Regions from separate parts of the Homo sapiens genome. Here region 1 is linked to region 2. The links come from fine-mapping of genetic effects on gene expression. A gene starts in region 2. The other region holds a variant in brackets. All regions are shown on one strand. Distances are from middle to middle.

What was found.
Region 1: its variant is fine-mapped to the expression of PSD2 in whole blood (TOPMed, PIP above 0.99).

The regions. Positions count from the first base shown.
Region 1 is chr5:139,769,987-139,780,147 of GRCh38, forward strand. It overlaps a transcript of PSD2 not described here. Among named protein-coding and RNA genes, the nearest start is that of PSD2, 21 kb to the right of the region's middle. The variant A/C (reference allele first, on the strand shown) is at 5,191.
Region 2 is chr5:139,790,198-139,800,358 of GRCh38, forward strand. PSD2 (pleckstrin and Sec7 domain containing 2) reads left to right here and starts at 5,611. Exons shown (of 15, transcript NM_032289.4): 1 at 5,611-5,778. RefSeq lists an enhancer at 1-345 and a silencer at 5,130-5,329.

The DNA of each region.
Region 1 (10,161 bases), 20 kb before region 2:
TGGGACAGTGGAGCATGCGGTACACAGAGAGGTAGAACCTGGGTGTCATGCGGGCCGGCTGGGGCTCCTGTGTGCATGCAGTGCTGGTGATGCCCGTGAGCACAGGATTCTGATGACCCCACCACATGTGGGGGCTCAGCAAGACTCAAAGTGAGTGTAAGGTAAGCTTGTTATGTCTACAACTGAGTAAGAGGAACGCTGACAGCCCTGAGGGACCTCACCATCCATTTCAACCAGAACTTGCCAGATGCAAGAAGAAGGCAATTGTGTGCTAAGAAACATGAACAGGGCCTGTCTTGGTGACTCACGCCTGTAATCCCAGCACTTTGGGGAGCTGAGGCAGGTGGATCTCCTGAGGTCAGGAGCTCGAGACCAGCCTGGCCAACATGGTGAAACCCCATCTCTACTAAAATACAAAAATTAGCTGGTCGTGGTGGCAGGCGGACTATAATCCCAGCTGCTCAGGAGGCTGAGGCAGGAGAATTAGGAGAATTGCTTGAACTGGGGAGTCGGAGGTTGCAGAGAGCTGAGATCGCGGCACTACACTCCAGCCTGGGCAACAGAGCGAGACTCCGTGTCAAAAAAACAAACAAACAAACAAAAAAACATGAATGGCCCAGGAACCCTGCTATAGCCTTCTTCCTCATGTTATTTCGCTGGATAAGCCAACCGCTGACACTAATCATGATGAGCTAGGACAGGGACAGATCAGGCAACCTGTAGTTCCTTTCCTTTCAGCCCCTCCTCACACATCATAAGCTAAAAGCAGAGCATGTTGAGAGAATGTGCATAAGTCAAGAAAAGAAATGAAAACAGTTGAGTAAGTTTTGTGCCCTTTCCCACCATTTCAGGTAAGATGAAATACACATGTGTGCACAAGGTACTGAATACAAATTATACGATTTTGATGATTCTGCATATGAGTTAAACACCCTTATATTTGCATTTAAAACTGACATTGCACAATAGAAAGATGAATAGTAAAATTCATGCTAGTCATTTAGATTTTTCATTTTTCTTTACTTAAAATGATATTTAACAAATACAAACTCATGACAAATCTAGAGGCAGACCAACAGAAAAGAAGCGAAGCTTTATATATCTCTAGGTACAGATACATAGATACTTTTATATTTTAGCGCCTTTATTATTAGGCATTTCCCTCCTGCTTTTTGAACAAGAAGCTCCACATTTTCATTTTGTGCTGGGTCCCATGTTGTGACTGGCCCGGGTGGCGGAGTCTCTATTTTAGGGTGAGGAATTGCGGGCCTGGGGACCCGGGGCTGCCCCACCCCTGGGCACTCCCTCTGTGGTGGAGCCGCCGTGGTGGGTAAGGCCCTGAATAGCCTGAGCGCAGGAGTGCAGGCAGGAAGCAGGCCTGCTTTCTTTTCTTTTCTTTTCTTTTTTTTTGAGATGGAGTCTCACTCTGTCGCCCAGGCTGGAGTGCAGTGGCACAATCTCGGCTCACTGCAAGCTCCGCCTCCTGGGTTCACGCCATTCTCCTGCCTCAGCCTCCCGAGTAGCTGGGACTACAGGCGCCCGCCACCACGCCCGGCTAATTTTTTGTATTTTTAGTAGAGATGGGGTTTCACCGTGTTAACTAGGATGGTCTCGATTTCCTGACCTCGTGATCCGCCCACCTCGGCCTCCCAAAGTGCTGGGATTACAGTCTTGAGCCACCGCGCCCCGCAGCCTGCTTTCCTTTCTATAACATTCTTCCCAGCTGGTGCAAGGTCTGGCTGTCCCTGGAGTCTGGCTCTCTCCCTGGTGTGCCACAGGCTATTTAGGGTCTGGGGCAGTGTAGCGCATATGGGGAAGTAAGTTCTCTCAGACTTCAAGATGCTGTTGCCCCTGGCCTTGGGGGGCATCTTCACTGACCACTGGGCTGCCATCCAAGGACCACGGTCCAACCCCTTCCAAGGGCAGGGCCTGCAGAGGGGCCTCAGAAACGGTGTTGCGGGACTGGAGATGGGCTTCTGTCTCCTCGCTCCCAGCACCCTTCCCCAGCCAGGTGAGGGAGAGGTAGTGGGTTCTCTCCTTGGCTTGCTCTTAGGGGACAATGAGAGGAGGAACGGAAAGCCCTTGGCAGGGATCAGTTAGCAGCCAGGCCTCCTGTGCGAGGCCCTCTCCCTAGAGGCAGAGGGAGTGGGAGTGGGAGTGGAAGGGCAGCTGGGTGGGAGGAAAAAGCGTCCCCAGACTGGGTCCTTGAAGGCAGCACAGGGGGCATTAGATCCCTCCTCCCGCTCTATGACTTTGACTCTAGTCCCAGACCCAGCAGCTCAGCCAAGTTCTCTGAGCCTGTTTCCTTCTTTATATTGTGGCTAATGACTATACCTGCCCCAAGGACTGTTGAGAGCATTCTCCGAGCCGATCTGTAAAAAGCATTTGGTGCAGAGCTGGGCACTTAGAGGTCTCGGTTCATGGAGCCCCTCCTCCCCTGCTGTGAAGAGGAGGTTGGTGATCCAGTGAGGCCTCCCTGCTCTGCGACCAGGAACACCTTCTGTCCCCTCTCCTTCTCCCTGTCCCAGGGCCTCCTTCTTTCATCTCTCCTCCTCGTCCCCTCCTTTTCTCTCTGCTGTTCCTCTAGCATGCCACACTCATGCCCAGCACAGGGCCTTTGCACTTGCTGTTTCTTCTGTCTGCAGCTCAGGTCTCCTGGATGCTTGATGACTGACTCTTGATCATTCCTTGGGTCTTTGCACAAATGTCACCTCCTCTGGGATGGTATGCCTGACTGCTCCAGTTGAAACTCCTCCTCATGCAGCCACTCTGTTACATTTCACTTTTTAATTTTCTGCACAGCAGGTAATAGGTGATAATATTCTTGTTTATTTGTTTGTTCAGTATCTTTTTCCCCTCCCCGCAGGCTGTGAGCTCCAGGTGAGTGGGCACCTTGTCTGTCTTGGTCCCCAAGTCTTCAGTGACTAGCAACACACAGTAGGTGCACCAGGCAGATACAGGTACTGTTCTTATGGAGGTCACAGTTTAATGAATGAGGCAGGATTGAAAAAGCAAAGAAATGTTTTGATACATATTTTTTTATTTACGGTAAAATATACATAACAAAATTTATCATCTTAACCTTTTTTAAGTATACAGTTCAGTGACATTAAATACATTCACATTATTGTGCAACCGTCACCACCATCCATCTTTGGAAGTCATTCATCTCGCAAAACTGAAACTCTGAACTCATTAAAACAGTAACTCCCCCACCTCCTTTCCCAGCACCCTCCACCCCTGCAACCACCTACCTTCCTTTCTTCCTACCTTCCTTCCTTTCTTCCTTTTTTTAGATTGGGTCTCGCTTTTGTCACCCGGGCTGGAGTGCAGTGGCACAATCATAGCTCACTGCAGCCTTGAATTCCTGGGCTCAAGGAATCCTCCTGCCTCAGCCTCTTGATAGCTGGGACTACAGGCACACACCACCACACCCTGCTTTTTTTCATTTTTTTCTAGAGACAGAGTCTTGCTATGTTGCCCAGGCTGGTCTTGAACTCCTGACCTCAAGCAGTTCTCCCATCTTGGCCTCCCATTTTACTTTCTGTCTCTATGAATTTGACTACCCTAGGTACATCATATAAATGGAATCATACCATATTTGTCCTTCTGTGACTGGCTTATTTCATCAGCATAGTGCCTTTGAGGCTCACTCATATTGTCTATGTCATAATTCTTTCCTTTTTAAGGCTGAGTAGTACTCCACTGTGTGGATAGACCACCATTCACCTGCTGATGGGTTCTTGGGTGGCTGCCACCGCTTGGCTGTTGTGAATGATGCTGTTATGAATGTAGGGGTATAAGCATATCTTCGAGTTCTTGTTTCAATGCTTTTGGGAATATATCCAGATGGGGGAATTGGTGGATCATATAATTTTATTTTTAATTGTTTGAGGAACCACCATACTATTTTGCATACTGGCTGAACCCTTTTATATTCCTACCAACAGTGCACAAGGGACAAGGGTTTCAATGTCCCTTGATGTAATGTCCCAATGACATTGAGGGACATTGTCCCTCAATGTCCCAAGGGTTTACATCATAGCTCACTGCAGCCTTGAACTTCTAGACTCAGGTGATCCTCCCACCTCAGCCTCCTAAAGTGTGGGATTAGAGGCGTGAGCCGCAGCACTCGGTCTCGTTTTTTTTTTGATGTGCATTGTCCTAATGATTAGATTACACATTAGGCAGGAAGCATGTTTTTCAGGAATGGAGGGTGGGGAGCCTCTTAGCTTCAGTGGTCTCAAAGGACTCTTTGGGGAGGTGGTATTTGAACTGAAGCCTAAAAGAAGGGAAGAAAGCAGCCAGTGGTGGATCTGGGATAAGGAGTGGAGGTTCAGGGAGAGGGAACAGTAAGTGCACAGGACCTGAAGTGTGGAGTGAGCACTGCGTATTTTTGCTGGAAAATAGTGAATAATGGGCAGGGGGAATGGGGGAAGAGGTGGTTTAAGAGGTGGGCAGGGCTGGCCGATGCAGGGCTGTGGGCCCTGGAAAGGCTTTCTTGCTTTTCTTTTCTTTTCTGGAGATGGAGTCTTGCTCTGTCACCCAGGCTGGAGTGCAGTGGCACGATCTCGGCTCACTGCAACGTCTGCCTCCTGAGTTCAAGCGATTCTCCTGCCTTAACCTCCTGAGTAGCTGGGATTACAGGAGCCCACCACCACGCCCGGCTAATTTTTGTATTTTTTAGTAGAGACGGGGTTTCACCATGTTGGTCAGGCTGGTCTGGAACTCCTGACCTCGTGATCCGCCCACCTCGGCCTCCCAAAGTGCCAGGATTACAGGCGTGAGCCACTGCGCCCGGCCCCGGGAAAGGCTTTCTATTTGCAATTTAGAGTAAGCACCGCTTTCCTCGGGGTCCGCAGGGCACAGGGGAGGGACGGGGCCTGATTGGGTAGTGATGTTGCTGTGTCCACCATGGGAGTGTGGTGCTTGTGGATGTGTGCACATGGAGGCGTGGAGTGTGTTCCTGGACATCACCAGGAGCCCAGATCATGATTTGACCTCTATCGAGACCGTACTGTGCCGCCGCCCTCCTGCCTGCAGTGCCATTGGCCGCCCCAGCCAAGGTTGCTTCTGGCGCCCACCACCAGTCTGGGATCAGCAAGATGGATCTGGAACCCATACCCAGGAGGTGAGGCTAGACTCCAAGAAGAACAGCCAACACTTCGAAGGTTTGGAGACAAGGCCTTG[A/C]GGCACTGAGGTCAGATTACTCCACACCCTATCTTTGCAAGGCAGCAGGGGACGCAGGAGTGTTGGGGCACTGTCTCCGGGAGTGGCGGGGGCTGCTGCAGTACCTGGGAGGGCCGCGCGGGGGCGGGCGAGGACGCCGAGCTATGAGAGGAGGGAGGGCGCGCGAGGCCGAGTGGGGAGCTTGGAGCAGCGGGAAGGTCAGGGGCGCCCATCTGCGGCACTCTCGGTTTGGCTCAGTTTCTGCCTACAAGTGTCTGTGCGTGTGAGGAGAAAATAAAGTCATGAGCTCATCACCATCCCAGTGGCGTCTCATTTAATCGTCATACCAACATCCTCACAGGCCCAGAGACGTAGAGCCACTTACCCAAGATCACTCAGCAGGGGAATTCAGACCAGGCCCGCCTGACCCCCCAGCCTGTGCGCTACCCAGTGCCCCACCCTAAATGAACTCATCTGCAGGGGAGGGAGTTTCTTCGCCTGTCTTCTCCTTCTCCTTTCTTCTTCCTTTTTTTGTGAGAGAGAGCTCTTATCGCCCAGGCTGGAGTGCAATGGCACGATCTCAGCTCACTGCAACCTCCGTCTCCGAGGTTCAAGCGATTCTCCTGCCTCAGCCTCCCAAGTCGCTGGAATTATAGGCATGCGCCACCACGCCCTGCTAATTTTTGTATTTTTAGTAGAGACGGAGTTTCGCTATGTTGGTCAGGCTGGTCTCAAACTCCTGACTTCAGGTGATCCACCTGCCTCGATCTCCCAAAATGCTGGGATTACAGGCGTGAGCCACTGAGTCCAGCCTCTTCACCTGTCTTCTGACCTCAGTTTGCCCCCACCACACTCTGCCTCATCCCCCTCCAAGACGCCTCCCCAAGGTCCCTGAGGAGGGGTTCAGGGGCCCTGGGGAGAGCTCAGATATATACCCCATCACCATGGTAACGACACCGGCAGGATAACATCCAGTCTCCTTCCTGACCTCCTGCCGCTGAGGGCTGGGGAGGGGTATCCAGGGAGCCTGGCTGAGCCCCTGGCCTGCTTCTGGGACCCCTGCCACCTCTGCTGAATCTCCTCTGGGCATCGGGCCCAAGTCCCAAGGGCTGTAAGCTGGGATACAACCAGGGTCCCCCTAAAAAACCCAGCAGCCTCCCTCCCCCAAGTGCATGACTGGCAGTTTGGCCTGCCCTGGAGGAAAAATCATGGGTAATTTCAGCTGAGAACATTGAGCAGAAGGGCATCCTGAGGCCCAGAGAGGAGCAGGGAATTATCTAGGATCCTGCAGCAAGGCAGGGGCTGAGGCTTTGTTTGTTTTTGTCCAGAAACGGCTGGATGACCCCAGAAAAAGAGGTCAATAAGATATGTACCCAGAGGCTGGAGATTGAGGGGCCATAAAGTCAGTTTTCTGAACTCCTCCAGGAAGTCCTCCCTGACCATCCCCTCTATTCACCAATGTTAGACATGGTCGCAGAGCTCCCTTGACACTTTGCTCAGGTCATTCTGAGCTGCTTTTTTTTTTTTTTTCCAGATAGGGTCTTGTTCTGTCACCCAGGCTGGAGTGCAGTGGCATGATCAAGGCTCACTGTAGCCTCAACTTCCTGGGCTCAAGTGATCCTCCTTCCTCAGCCTCCTGAGTAGCTGGTGAGCTTCATTAAGGCACCTCAAAGAACCACAGTCCATTCTCCTGGCCAGCCTATAAATCCCCTCTCTAACCCTCCCGACAATGGGCTGCCCATCTTGCTTGCACACCTTATGTGATGGGGAGATAGCTGCCTTAAAAGGCATGTAGTTTCCACTGTAGGACAGTTTCTTCTAGTGAGACCAAGCTGGCCTTCTTGTGCTGTCCAGCTGTTGGAACTAGCTCACTCTGTGGAGCACAGAACAAGTGACTCCATCTGCTGCACACAGGCCCCAGATGGCTGCAGAGAGGTCTGTGTCCTCCCATCCCCATTCCAGCCTTTTCTCCAGCTTAAGTGGTGCCAGTTCCCTATAAACAACCTTTTCAGCCCTTCATCTCCTGGGCAACCCTCCACTGGGTATACCCTAATTGGCAATGGCCCCTTCTGTAGTGGCTTTTTCTCAATACACAAAAAAATATGTGTTTGTTATAGGGAAAGTAAAAAATATGCACAAGGGAAAAATATCCCCAATCCTACCACCCAGAGATGACCTCTTTTAGCTCCTTGGGGCCTCTTGTTGCAAACAGATGCCAATGTGTGCATTAAAGTGAGAGGCAAAAGCAAGACTATTTCAAAGCTGGTGGGAGGGAGGCCTTGTAGGGGAGAAAGGCAACGTCTGTCTAACTTAGTAGCTTGAAGGTCATTTGGTTGTAAGACAGGTTTGCTCAGGAAGACTGAGGATTGGGGCAAAGAGAATAAAATAATTTTGATGATAAAGAAAAATTTAGTTTCCAAAGGCCATGCTAGAAATGTGGGGAGCAGCCTGGGTGCTGTGGCTCATGCCCTTAATCCCAGCACTTTGGGAGGCCGACGTGGGTGGAGTGCTTGAGCTCTGGAGTTCGAGATGAGCCTGTGCAACATGGCCAGACCTCATCTCTACAAAAATACAAAAATTAGCTGCGTGTGGTGGCACACACCTGTGTTCCCAGCTACCTGGGAGGCTGAGGTGGGAGGATTGCTTGAGCTCAGGAGGTTGAGGCTACAGTGAGCCATGATAGCCCCACTGTATTCCAGCCTGGGTGACAGAGGGAGATCCTGTCTCAAAAACAGACAAATAAAAAAAGAAATGTAGGAGCATTTTGCTGAAGCATTGCCCTCCAGACAGGCTCCCAACAACCATTCCCTCTCAGTCTCCACCACCTTCCTCCTAGAGCCTGGGAACAAGGCAAACCCAGGCCCCCATGGGCAGGGCCTCTTTCAGAATGAAGAAGCGAGGGCTTCAGTGCTGGCCCCCTAGGAAAGTCCTACACAAGGTCCAGTTATGCCTTCACTGCAAATGTCAGTCAAAGTTGTATGCCCAATTAGTGGCACTCGAGGTGTGAAGGAATAAGTGTGGTTCCCAAGGGACAGTGCAGGGGGAAATGGGACAGTGCACACAAGATGTACAAGGCAGGTGGGAAGTGGAGAATGTCATGAAAATAGGAAGACAGCTAGTCACAATAAGGAGACATTAAGGCCCCCCAAGAACTGTAAGCCTTGGGACAGGCAGTGGTACACTGAGTAGCCCATGTCATGGGATGGGGTCTCTAGTCAAGAGAAGAGTGACTCCAGAGGCTCTGCTTCCTCCTTAACTGTATAGATAAAGAATATCTTTCCATTTCAGCAAATATTTGTGATGCATCATTTTAATGACATAATACTCCAGTGCATAAAGACACCACAATTTCTTTAACCAATACCCTATTTTAGGACATTTAAGTTATTTACAACTTTTTGCCATTATAATCAATATTGTAATGAACATCCTTGTAGCTATATCTTTGCCCACATCCATCTTTATTTTCTTAGGATAAATCCCTAGCAATGAGGGTCAGGCGTGGTGGCTTACGCCTGTAATACTAGCACTTTGGGAGGCCAAGGATCGCTTGAGCCCAGGAGGTTGAGATCAGCCTGGCAACTTGACAGAAACCCATCTCTCCAAAAAAAAAAGTGCAAAAAATTAGCTGGGTGTGGTGGCACGTGCCTATAGTCGCAGCTACTCAGGGGGCTGAGGTGGGAGGGTTGCTTGAACCCAGGATGTCGAGGCTGCAGTGAGCCATGATAGTGCCCTTGCACTCCAGCCTGGGTGACAGAGCGAGCCAATGTCTCAAAAAAAGAAAAAAAACAAAAAAAAAAAAAAAAAGAAAGAAAAAATTTGGTTAAAGGACAGAAACTTTTTTAAGGCTTTTGGTGCATGTTGACAAATTGCTTCCCAAAAGGTGCGCTGCATTTGCCTCCTAAATGCTGACAGCTGTGGGCCTGTGCTGATTTCCCCAGGACTTAGCCATCAGTTGTTTTTTAATTTATTTATTAATTTTTTTTATTTCCATAGGTTATTGGGGAACAAGTGGTGTTTGGTTACATGAGTCAGTTCTTTAGTGGTGATTGTGAGATTTTGGTGCAGCCATCACCTAAGCAGTATACACTGCACCCAATTTGTGGTCTTTTGGCTGTCTTCTTCTCCACATTTTATTGTTAAAATTTCAGACATACAAAAAAGTTGAACAAATTTTACAGTGAACACCTACGTAGCCACCCCCCGGGTTTTCTAATTTATTTTAGTGCCATCTTTGTCTTGTCATTATCTATGCATCCCTCCTTTACCCATCAAGTCATCTTTTTTGAGTGTATATTAGAGCAAATTACAGCTATCAGTACACTTTGACCCCCAAACACTTCAACATGTTTATCATGAACTAGAGGTCAATGCTTGTGTATGGTTCTTTGTTCTATGAAGGCAAAATTTTTTATACAATGAAATGCACAAATCTTAAGTATACCATTTATTGAGTTTTAACAAATGCATATATTTGTATAAGCCCAACTCTATCAAGATATGGAATATTTCCATCACTCCAAAAAGTTTCCTAGTTTCCCGGTTGCCCCCATTGTTCTGATTTCTTTCCACCATAGCTTAGTTTTGCTCATTCTAGAATGTCATAATCATCGAATCATGCAGTATCTACTCTTTTTACCTGGCTGGTTTCATTCAGCATAATGTTCTGGAGCTTCGTCCTGTTGTTGCATGTATCAGTAGTTTGTTCCTTTTTATTGTTGAGTAGGAATCCATTGTATGGATGTGTAATAGTTTGTTAATCCATTTGCTTCTTGACAGACACCTGGGCTGTTTCTAGTTTGGAACCATTGTAAACAAAACTGCTATGAAATTGTTGTACAATCTTTGTGTGAATATATGTTTTCATTTTTTCTTGGGGACTCGAGTGGAAATGCTGCATCATAGGGTGGGCATATGTTTAGTTGTCTAAGAAACTGCTTGACCTATTTACAAAGCAGTTCTACCATTTTATACTCCCACCAACATTTTACA
Region 2 (10,161 bases):
CACTTGAGCCCAGGAATTCGAGACCAGGCTGGCCTTGTGGTCGTGATGTTTACGGCAAAGAGGAAGAGGAGGTCAGTGTGGGTTGGGTTAAGATGGAACTGCTCTTTGGATATCCTAGTGGCAACTTCAGGTCAGCACTTGGGTGTTGGGGTCTGACCTCAGGTGGAAAGGTCCAGGTTGGAGAATCACACACCGAGAAGCTTCAGGGTTTAGCTGGGCTTTGAAGCTGGGCTGGGGTCATCATGGGAAAGAGTGAGATGGAGAAGACCGAGGACTGAGCCCTGGGAGCTCTGGCATTGGAGGTCAGAGAGGGGCGGAGAAACTAGCAAAGGAAGATGAGAAGGTGCAGCCAGAGAGGCAGGAGGAAAAACATGACAGTGAGGAGTCCTGGAAGTCAAGGGAAGAAAGTATGTCAAGGAGGAAGCGGGGATGAACGGTGTCAGATGCTGTCAGGAAGCTAAGACCAGGCCTGTGAATGGACTTTTGGATTTAGCATTGTGGCAGTCACTGAGGACTAGGCCACAGTCTAGCACCATGTACAAACTTTAGAAAATGGTGGCCATGGCCGGGTGCTGTGGTTCATGCTTGTAATCCCAGCTCTTTGGGAGGCTGAGGTGGGTGTCCTGAGGTCAGTTGTTCAAGACCAGCCTGGCCAACATGATGAAACCCTGTCTCTACTAAAAATACAAAAAATTAGCTGGGTGTGGTGGTTGGGTGGGGGGGAGCGCCTATAATCCCAGCTACTCGGGAGACCGAAGCAGGAAAATCGCTTGAACCCAGGAGGTGGGGGGTGCAGTGAACCGAGATTGCACCATTGCACTACAGCCTGGGCAACAAAAGTGAAACTTCATCTCAAAAAAATAAAAAAAGAAAAGAAAATGGTGGCCATTCCAGGTGGACCTGGCTACACAGGCAAACAGAAGGTGGATACCTTGCTGTAAAGAAAAAGGCACTCTGCACAGTGGCTCACACCTGTAATCCTAGCACTTTGGGAAGCCAAGGCAGGAGGATCACTTGAGCCCAGGAAGTCAAGACCAGCCTGGGCAACATGGCGAAACTCCATCTCTACAAAAAATATAAAAATTAGCTGGGTATAGTGGTGCATGCCTGTAGTCCTAGCTACTGGGGAGGCTGAGATGGGAGGATCGCTTGAGCCTGGGAAGTCAAGGCTGCACTGATCTGAGATCATGCCACTGCACTCCAGCCTGGGTATTCCTGTCTCTAAAAGAAAAACAAAAAACAAAACAAAACAAAACCAAAAACAAAAAGAAACCCACTCAACAAACTAGGAATAGAAGGGAATGAACTCAACATGATAAAGGGCATTTATGAAAAACCCACAGCTAACACTGTACTCAGGTTGCAGCGAGCCATGATTGTGCCACTGCACTATGCTGGCCTGAGACCCTCTCTCAGAAAACAAAAAACAAAAAACAAAAAAAAAAGAGAAAGAAAAAGGCATCTCTTCCCCTGACAGATACAACCTTGCATCAGGACACACAGCATGGTGAAAGGAGAACAGGTTGGGTTTTAGCTACCTCTCCATCCTTCATGTAACCCAGCACCCTTGTGCAGTGCCCAGCCTGCACATCTGTACTCAGCAACTGTGTTGGTGACTTTGATGAGTGGTGTCAGTGGACTGTACAGGGAGATAAGAGCTAGACTGGAGTTCCTTTGAGAGACAGGAATTAGAGACAGCCAGCATGGACAACTTTTTCAAGGAGCTTTGCTGTAATAGGTAAAGAGAAATGGGATGGTAGCTGGGGAGTGGAGAGGAATTAGCCAAATGAGAGTGCGTGAAGGGGAAGGCATCCCAGGCAGAGAGCCTGCCTAAGCAAAGGGAGGTCACTAGAAATGGTTGAGGGGGAATGAGTGTGGGAGGGGTCCTAGGACATCAAATTTGAGGTGGGAAGTGTCAGGAGAGGGGACATAGAATAGGTGAATTGGGGCCTTCATCTTGGGGTCGTGGGGGTGCTGGGGACAGGGGCAGGTTACAACAAAGCTGTGAACACAGTAGGTGCTTATTGAGCTCTCTGGGATTGGCCTGGGGAATCCCTACCCAGGCACCCCACCTGGGCCTCAGGCTTCCAGCTGGAAGATGGGAGAATTGGGTGTTTTAGGGGTCCTCTGAGTCAAGCCTCTTCTGGGTTGGACCCAAATGAGTCCTCCCAATTGGTGGGTCCCTCTGTCCCTGCCCAAGGTGCTGACCATGCCCAATGCAGCTGGCCCCCCCTCCCCCCATAACTTTCATGCTCTCCTGGGGACCAGTCAAGGGCCAGGCGGTAAACCATGGGAAAAGGCCCCTCCATGTGCAAGGGTCTTTGGTTCAGCCTTGGCACCTGCTTCTTATGAGACCCCCTCAGGTGAGGAGGCGGGGTGGGGGAGGAAAGGGAGGTCACTTGGAGGAACAGGGAGAAGCTGCGCATTCTTCTTTCCCTTGAGGAATGGGGGAAATATCGTCTATTCTGGCTCCTGGGTAGGGGGATGTTGACCCTGCTGTCTTTCTTTCTCTTTCTTTCTTTTCTTTTCTTTCTCTCTTTCTTTTTTCTTTCTTTCTTTCTCTTTCTCCCTTCCTTCCTTCCTCCCTCCCTCCCTCTCTTTCTCTCTCTCTTTTCCTTCCTTCCCTTCCTTCCTTCCTTTCTTTCTTTTTTTCTTTCTGTCTTTCCTTCCTTCCTTCCTTCCTTCCTTCCTTCCTTCCTTCCTTCCTTCCTTCTTTCTTTCTTTTTTCTTTCTTTCTTTCTGTCTTTCTTTCTTCTTTCCTTCTTCTTTTGACTGAGTCTTGCTCTGTTGCCCAGGCTGGAATGTAGTGGCACGATCTTGGCTCACTGCAACCTCTGCATCCTGGGTTCCAGTGATTCTCTTGCCTCCGGAGTAGCTGGGATTACAGGTGTGCATCACCACACCCGGCTAATTTTTGTATTTTTAGTAGAGAGGGGGGTTTCACTGTGTTGGCCAGGCTGGTCTCGAGCTCTTGACCTCAAGTGATCCAACCCACTTTGGCCTCCCAAAGTGTTGGGATTACAGGCGTGAGCCACCATTCCCAGCCTGACCCTGCTGTCTTTCAGGAGGCGAAGGTAGCCACAAGGAACAGTAACAATACTCCCCTCTCCAGTGTCCATGGCACCCAGAACACTCACACAGAGCTCACCTGTGGCCTCCAGGCAGCCCTCTGAGCCCTAGGGAGCTAGTTCCACTTGACGGAGGGGAAAGGAAGGTTCAGGAAAGGGTACAGCTGCCCATAGCCACACAGCTAGGAAGTGTGGGTTGGGGGGACTGGACTAGAACCCGGGTCTCCTTGCCCCTGCCACAGGCTCCCAGAGCTACAAAGGACAGGGGGCAGATCCAGGGGGCAGAGACTAGGTTCTGTGTGCCAGCCCAGCGCAAGTTAGCTGGAGAGACAGCTATGTCTACCTTTCCCCTTTCCCTGTTCTTTCCTTCCACATAATTTATTAAGCCATGCTGAGTGTTAGGTGCTGAGGATACACTGTGAACCCTTTCAAGGGGCTCAGAGTCCATCCAGTGGACAACAATTAAATAGTGCATTCCATGAGTAAGTAATCATTACAGCTGGAACAGCCATGGCCCATTGAGTGCATCTGTGTGCCAGGTCTTGAGCACATCAGCTCTTTCGGTCCCCATCCTAGCCTCACAAAGAGGGGGACTGCTACCATCCTCATTGGGCAGATGAGGAAGTAGGAGCCCAGAAAGGTGGTCCAGCTGTGACTTGAGGGCATGGGTGCCAAGGGTGGGGAATGTGGTATCTAAGCCCTGCCATGAGCACTTCCCTCCACAGCCCCTGCTGGTCGCCACCCTTCTCTGCCTACAGGTAGCAGAGGGCAGGGGGGTAGAATGCAGGACAGCAGGGAAGCCAAGCTCCCTCTGTGCCCTTTAAGATCCTGGGCACCTGCACAGAGAGTGGCTCCCTTGTTTCTGGGCTCTGCGGTAATGTCCTAGGGTTTGATGGGCAGTGAAGGATGTGGTCTGAGTGCCCTCTTAATTGACCAGCTGTGCTCACAGATTCAGATCTCCTGGGATCATGAGCAAGTGACTTATGCTCTCCAAGTCTCAGTTTTCTCATCTGTAAAACGGGTTGTAGGATTGTTTTGAGAATTAAATATGACACATGAAGAGCACTTGGTAGATGCTTGGTTGTCAGAGGTGTCACCATGGTTGATGAAGTCCCAGCTCCTGCTGTTGCCCAGCTTGAAGGGAGGGAGACTACGCACAGCTCAGATTCCACACCTCCAATTACTGCCACCCTAAGAGGTCAGCAAATCCTCTTCCTGCTCCCTAAGAAGAGTCCATGTTTGTGTGTTCATGGGTGGAAAGAAGGTCAGAGAAGACTTCATGAAGGAAGGGGCATTTAAGGAGGAATTTGAGGGTTCAGTAGGAGTTCACTGAGCACAGCAGGATCAAGGCCCCACCGGGCAGAGTGTGGATCATCTGCTGAGGTCTGGAGATGGAAGCAACTGGGTGTGGTGAACCCCCCAGGGGCTGGAGTAGGGGAGAGGGGTAGAAAGTGGCCTCCAGTGGCAGGGCCTGACTCTATCCTGATTTCCCTTCTCCCAGGCACTGGGCCTGCTCCCCACGCCCTCCTTAGATCCCTGTGGGTGGGGGCCCTTTAATGCCTCTCTGAGAGGCGGACTCTTACTCTGCAGGTGCCTCACAGCCAGGAAGTTCTTAATGTCTAGCCCAGGTACAGCCAGTCAACCCTCTTCTTCAGTTAGAGTCCTGGGCTGAGGGGGGCGGCTTCAGGGCCTTGACTTGCCCTTGGGGAGACACCGTGGGACAGGTGCCTTGGGAGATGGTTTCCTCTGCCCAGGGCACCCTCTGTCTCTCTCTGTCTCCTTATATCTGCCCAGGGAGGCTTCCCCTTGACCTGGCACAGGGATGTGGATTCTTGGTTGGACCCACCCCTCACCTCCCGCCTCCCTCAGGTTCTTTCTCCTTTGTCTCTTTCTCCTCTCTCCTGCCTCCTCCCATCCCACTCTGTCCCGAGGCTCCTTCTCACCCCACAGCCCAGGTCTCCGTCCCGTCCCGTGTGACTCTAGGTCTCAGGGGCTCAGTCTCCCTCTCTGAGATTCTTCACCTTGGCCCCCCGCACTCCCTGCTCCTCCCTTGGCGGCGTCTCCCGGGGGCTGGCGTGTGTGTCGGGGGGCTGGGGGCAGGGGTCACTCCCTGAACAGACCGCGGGAGGAGGGCCAGGACCCGCCCCCTCCTTCACCTCCAGGGCCTGGCGGGTCCCGAGAGCTCAGGTTCTAGACCGGTGGGTCCTGCCTGGAGGGCGGAGGTGGTTGGGTCTGCCCGAGGGTTCGAGGACGGCAGGGGCCCAGCGTGGCTAGGAGGGGGCAGAACCCCGGGCGCTCCCCTCCCCCCCTTTCTTAAAGGGCCCGCGCGGGGCAGAGGGGGACAAGGTGGGCCGCGCTCTCCCCGGCACGCTCGGGGTCCCGGGGCGAGCGCTGCGCTGCAAGCGGACAGGGCTGGGGGCCGCGCTTCCCTCCGGGCTCCGCGCCCGCCGCTCGCGCGCCCGCAGTGCCCCCGCCCTTCCCCGCCCTTCCCGCTCCTCCCTCCTCCTCCTCCTCCAGCTCACGGCTCCGCTCCCTCCCTCCTGCCGTCCGTCCCCCTCGCTCAGCCTCTCCACATCGCGGCTCCGGCACCTGAAGGGACGCGGGCGGGCGCGGGCAGCTCCGACCGGCGGCGGCGGGGCGGGACAGGCAGCCCGGCGGCCTCCGATGGCCCCGCCGTGAGAGGCCGGACCCGCGGCGGGGACCAGCAGCGGTGAGTGGGGCCGCGGGGCTCCGGGACCCGCCCCTCCCCGCTGGCGGCCAGGCCGGGGCGGGACGGGCCGGGGAGAGGGCCGCGTGCGGGTGGGGGGCGTCGCCCTCGCCCTCGGTGCCCACCCGGGTCCGCTAACAAAGCTACATTTCCAGATCAATTCCGCGGCGTCTGGAGCATCCGAAGGATACGGTTGTCATGGAGATGGGGCCGAGAGAGGAAGCCCGGGCTGGCCGGGTCTGGGCCGGGGAGAGGGGGCGCCGCGGGAAAGCCCGAGCCCAGCCTGAGGGACGGTGGGGGCTGCCGGGCCGATTGTCTCCCGGCTCCGCCACCCACTACCCTCTCCCCGCTTTTGTATAATCTGGGGGTACGCGTGTGCGTGGGGGGTGCCAGTGGCAGCCTGGTGGTCGGGGATCGGGGCATTGGGTACCGGGGCCTGCCGGCAGCCACCTTCACGAGGCTGCAGCTTTGAGGATTTATTTCTGTTTCCAGTTTCCCAACTTTGACAGCCCTGCTTGGCGGCCAGGCCTCCCCGGCTCTGCAGCTAGAGCGGGGGCTCGCACGGGGGCGTGGCAGTCAGGGCTGAGGAGGCACATAATGGCCGAGGCGGCAGCGGGAGGGAGGGGTCCCAGGAGCGGGCTGCTGGGGCTGGGTGCAGAGGGAGTCCAGACTGGGGACAACCCTGCCCAGCGGGCCCCCTCGGAGGAGGAGGTATTCAGCTGTTCCTAGAGGATGCAGGGACTCCCCGGAATGATCACTGGGGGCATTGTTTTTGCATAGGCCCAGGGGGCCACTGTCTCAAGCCCACCCCTTTGTCTTGGGGCCATCTTGGGGGGGCCAGGAAGAGAACAGGGAGCAGAAGCAGCAGTCACAATGGAAGAGGGCCTAAGACTCCTGGCAGCCTGGGGATAAGCCAGGCTGAATTTGATGGGGATCAGCGAGAGGGCTCAGGATTTGGCCAGGGCAGGTGGGCAGCCTGGGTTTGGACTTTCCTGGGTTCCCCAGTTCCTTTTTCTAGATCCTACAAACAAGAGCTGCTTAATAGTGGTTGGGGGTGGGGGGGTTCACTGGGCTGGGACTGCCTCCAAACCCAACCCGTGGCCCAGGGCAGTTGCAGTCGTTCTTTCATTCTTCCACCCTCTCCCCAGGACTTTAGGAACCTGTCTCCCAGGGAAGCTACAAGTTCTGGGGCCTGGGATCTCCGAATCAGTAAAATGTGCCTGCTGTCCTCCCAGCAGCCCCTTTCCCCAATATATGCGGGAAGCAGGGAACAGGGGCTTTTGAGTGGGGCTACTGCAAAGTTTGGTCCTGGTGGAAACATAGCAGGTCCCTAGGGTTTGGCCAGAGCCCCCAAAAGATTCCCACGCAGTGGGGTGAGTAGGTGGGTGTGGCCCAGCTAAAGGAGGATGACTGGGTTGTCCTTGGAAGGCCTCCCTCACTGGTGCCTCTTGCAAGGTTGAAGTCTCAATGCTTGGGTGAATTGCACCCTGCAGCCCAGGGATGCCCCCAGAGGCCTCCCCGCTGCAGCTTGTCCTGGTCTGACAACTATGGGGTGCACGCTCCACAAGCAGACCTGACAAATAGTGCCTCCCAGGGTCTTCCCTGAAGGGAGAGAGCAAAGATAGCTGGAAGGAATGACTTCCTGCTCTAGACAGGACTGAGAGAGAGAGTGTGGCTGGGGGGTATTACCTCACCTAGCTTCCACATATGGAGCATATGTGCTAAGTACCCTCATAACAGTCTTTAGAGGGAGGCACTACCCTTATTCCCATTTTGTGGTAGAGCTGTTTGTTCAAAGTCTCCTGGTTAGTAAGTGGCAGAGTGAGGATTTGCACTTGGCCAGAACTGTCTGATACTCAGACCTGTGTCCCCATCCTCTCCTCTTCTTCCCTGGAGACACAATTTAGGAGAGAGGTGGGAGGTGGGATAGAGTGTCTCTCCATCTGGGCAAGAGGGTGACCTTGGGAAAAACAAGCACTAAGCTGTAGTTTCCTAGGGAGGTGGGATCAAGGCATTCCCATTCCGGACGTTGGCTTGCAGGAGATCAACACTGCCTCTCACAACAGACGATGCTCTAGACCTCCTTTGCCAGATGGTCTTTTCCAGGAAAATCTGTTTTGAGCGGCATCTTATGTCTGAGGCTCCGTATTTAGACTGGCTCTCCAAACAGGAGGATACACTTAGGCTGTCGCCCCTTGAGGGGTGTTTGGGGGAGTTGGGTGGGCTTGGGGCCAGACCTGGCTCCTTGCCACAGCTCAATGGAGGGGGAGGGGCCCATGTTCCTGCCCTGGTCTCCCTGGGACCAGCTTGTTTTCCTTGTCCCTCTAAGCCGGCTTGCCCACAGGTGAGTCCGTTTCCTCAGGGTCTGGCCCCCTTTTCAGGTGGTAAGCCACTCCAGCGCTGTGCCTGCCTGGCCTGGGCTGGCCTGTGGGCTGGCCCACAGCTCTGCATGCTCAGGTTTGTGGACTGCCCTGGGGAAGGAATGTCCTCTCCTCTGACTCCTGCCCCAAAATTCCAACCCCTGAGCTCCCCTCTTTGGAACGTCTCCCTCCACTCCCTTCCTTCTCCCACCTTACTTTTTATCTTGTCAAAGCTGATAGTATAGTGAACACCCACCTACATACCCTTCACCTAGAGACCTAGATTTGCCAGTTGTTAACATTTTGCCACATTTGTTTCTCTCTCTCTCTCTTTCTCTCTCTCTCTCAATCTTTTGAAAGTAAGTTGCCAACATTATAACACTTCACCTCTAAATACTTCAGCATGAATTTCCTGAGACAGGGACATTTTTCTACAAAAATAATGCATTGTTATCATACCCAAGAAGTTTAGTAATCATCCAGTTTAACCTAACATGTAGTCCATATTTAAATTTCTCTAGTTGTCTCAGTAAAGTCCTTTATAGCTGTTTTTTTTAATTTGATCATGGAACATACATTGCATTTAGTTATTATGGCTCTTTAGTGTTTCAATCTGGATGAATCCCTGGCTTTTTTGAGATTTTTTTTAATGACATTGTCAATTTGGAAGGCTTGTGATACGTCTCACATCCTGGATTTGTCTTCTTGCTTGCTTGTGATTAGAGTCAAGTTAACCATTTTGGGGCAAGAATATCTCATAGATGATGTCATGTCCTTCTCAGTGCATGATATTGGCAGGCACCTGTTATTAGTTTGTCCTGTAGTAGGTGGTGGTAAGTTAGGTCACTTGGCTCAGGGGTCCCTGTATTTCAATTCTGTTCCTCCCCCTTCCCTACCTCCAGAAGCTTCATCTACCTGGTAATCTGCGCACCAGGTCAGCAAATCTGACTGAACCCCTACATCAGACCAGATGCTGGAGAATAGAGAAGCAGACAGAAACTTTCAGGGAGCTCAAAACTTCAGGGTTGGGAGTGGGGGAGCCACAACTCAGACAGGTGCTGTTGGTGGGGGAGAGGGGAAGCCCAGAGAAAGTAGTGAGAGGCACAGCAAGGGGAGAGGGCATGGGGGCCAGACAGGAAGGGAGGCCCAGGCCACAGCTAGCCTGGAATGTGGGCTGAGGGGTTGGCCTTTTCCCCAAGGGCACTTCAAAACCACTGAAGGGTTTTGAAGAGGGGATGATGAGGCAGTTTGGAGTGTTGGAAAGGCACTCTGAGGAGGATGGAGTGGGGCTGACTGGGCCAGCACATGGGAAAGAGACCAGCCAGGAGGCTGTGGCAGCACCCAGCACAAGACAGGGGGGACAGCATTGGGGCTGCTGCTTGTGGCATATAGAGAGAGTGGAGTTGTGTGGTTTGGGGGCCCTGCTGGGAGGGTGTTGCTGGGGGGTATCGGAGAAGGGGATGGAGCTGGGAGAGATTTAGGAAGCAGAACGGACAGGCCCTTGTGTCTGACTAGAGATAGGGAGAGTGGGAAGGATGAGCTTGTGCAATGGCTTGGGAAGGGAGATGGAGGTTTTGAGTGTATGAGGTCTGAGGTGTTTTCCAGGCCAGAGGAATGGTGTGTGGGAAGCTCATTTGGTGGCCCCAACTGTGGCCCCCTTGCAGAAGCTCATTTTGAGATGCAGGCAGAAAGAAGAGCCACACATAGCCCACTGCAGGGGATGGATGGTGGGCTTCAGGCACCAGCAGGGGAGGGCCCTGAGCAGGGCTAGGCCAGCTCAGATGGCAGCTGCCCCTGTGGAAGCCAGGATAATCCTGCCACTAACTTGCAGACCCCAATTCCCTTACCTCATTTTGCTTCTTCACACTTTCTTGGCAAAACCCCAACCCTGGTTAAATCCAATGCCTGGCCTACCCCACTCCTGCACATGCAGCTGAATGGGGCTGAGCAAAACAACTGCCCTGACTGTTCTCACTTTCAGTCCAAGCCCATGAACTCTGAACTTCAGGTGGGTCCTTAGTGCAGT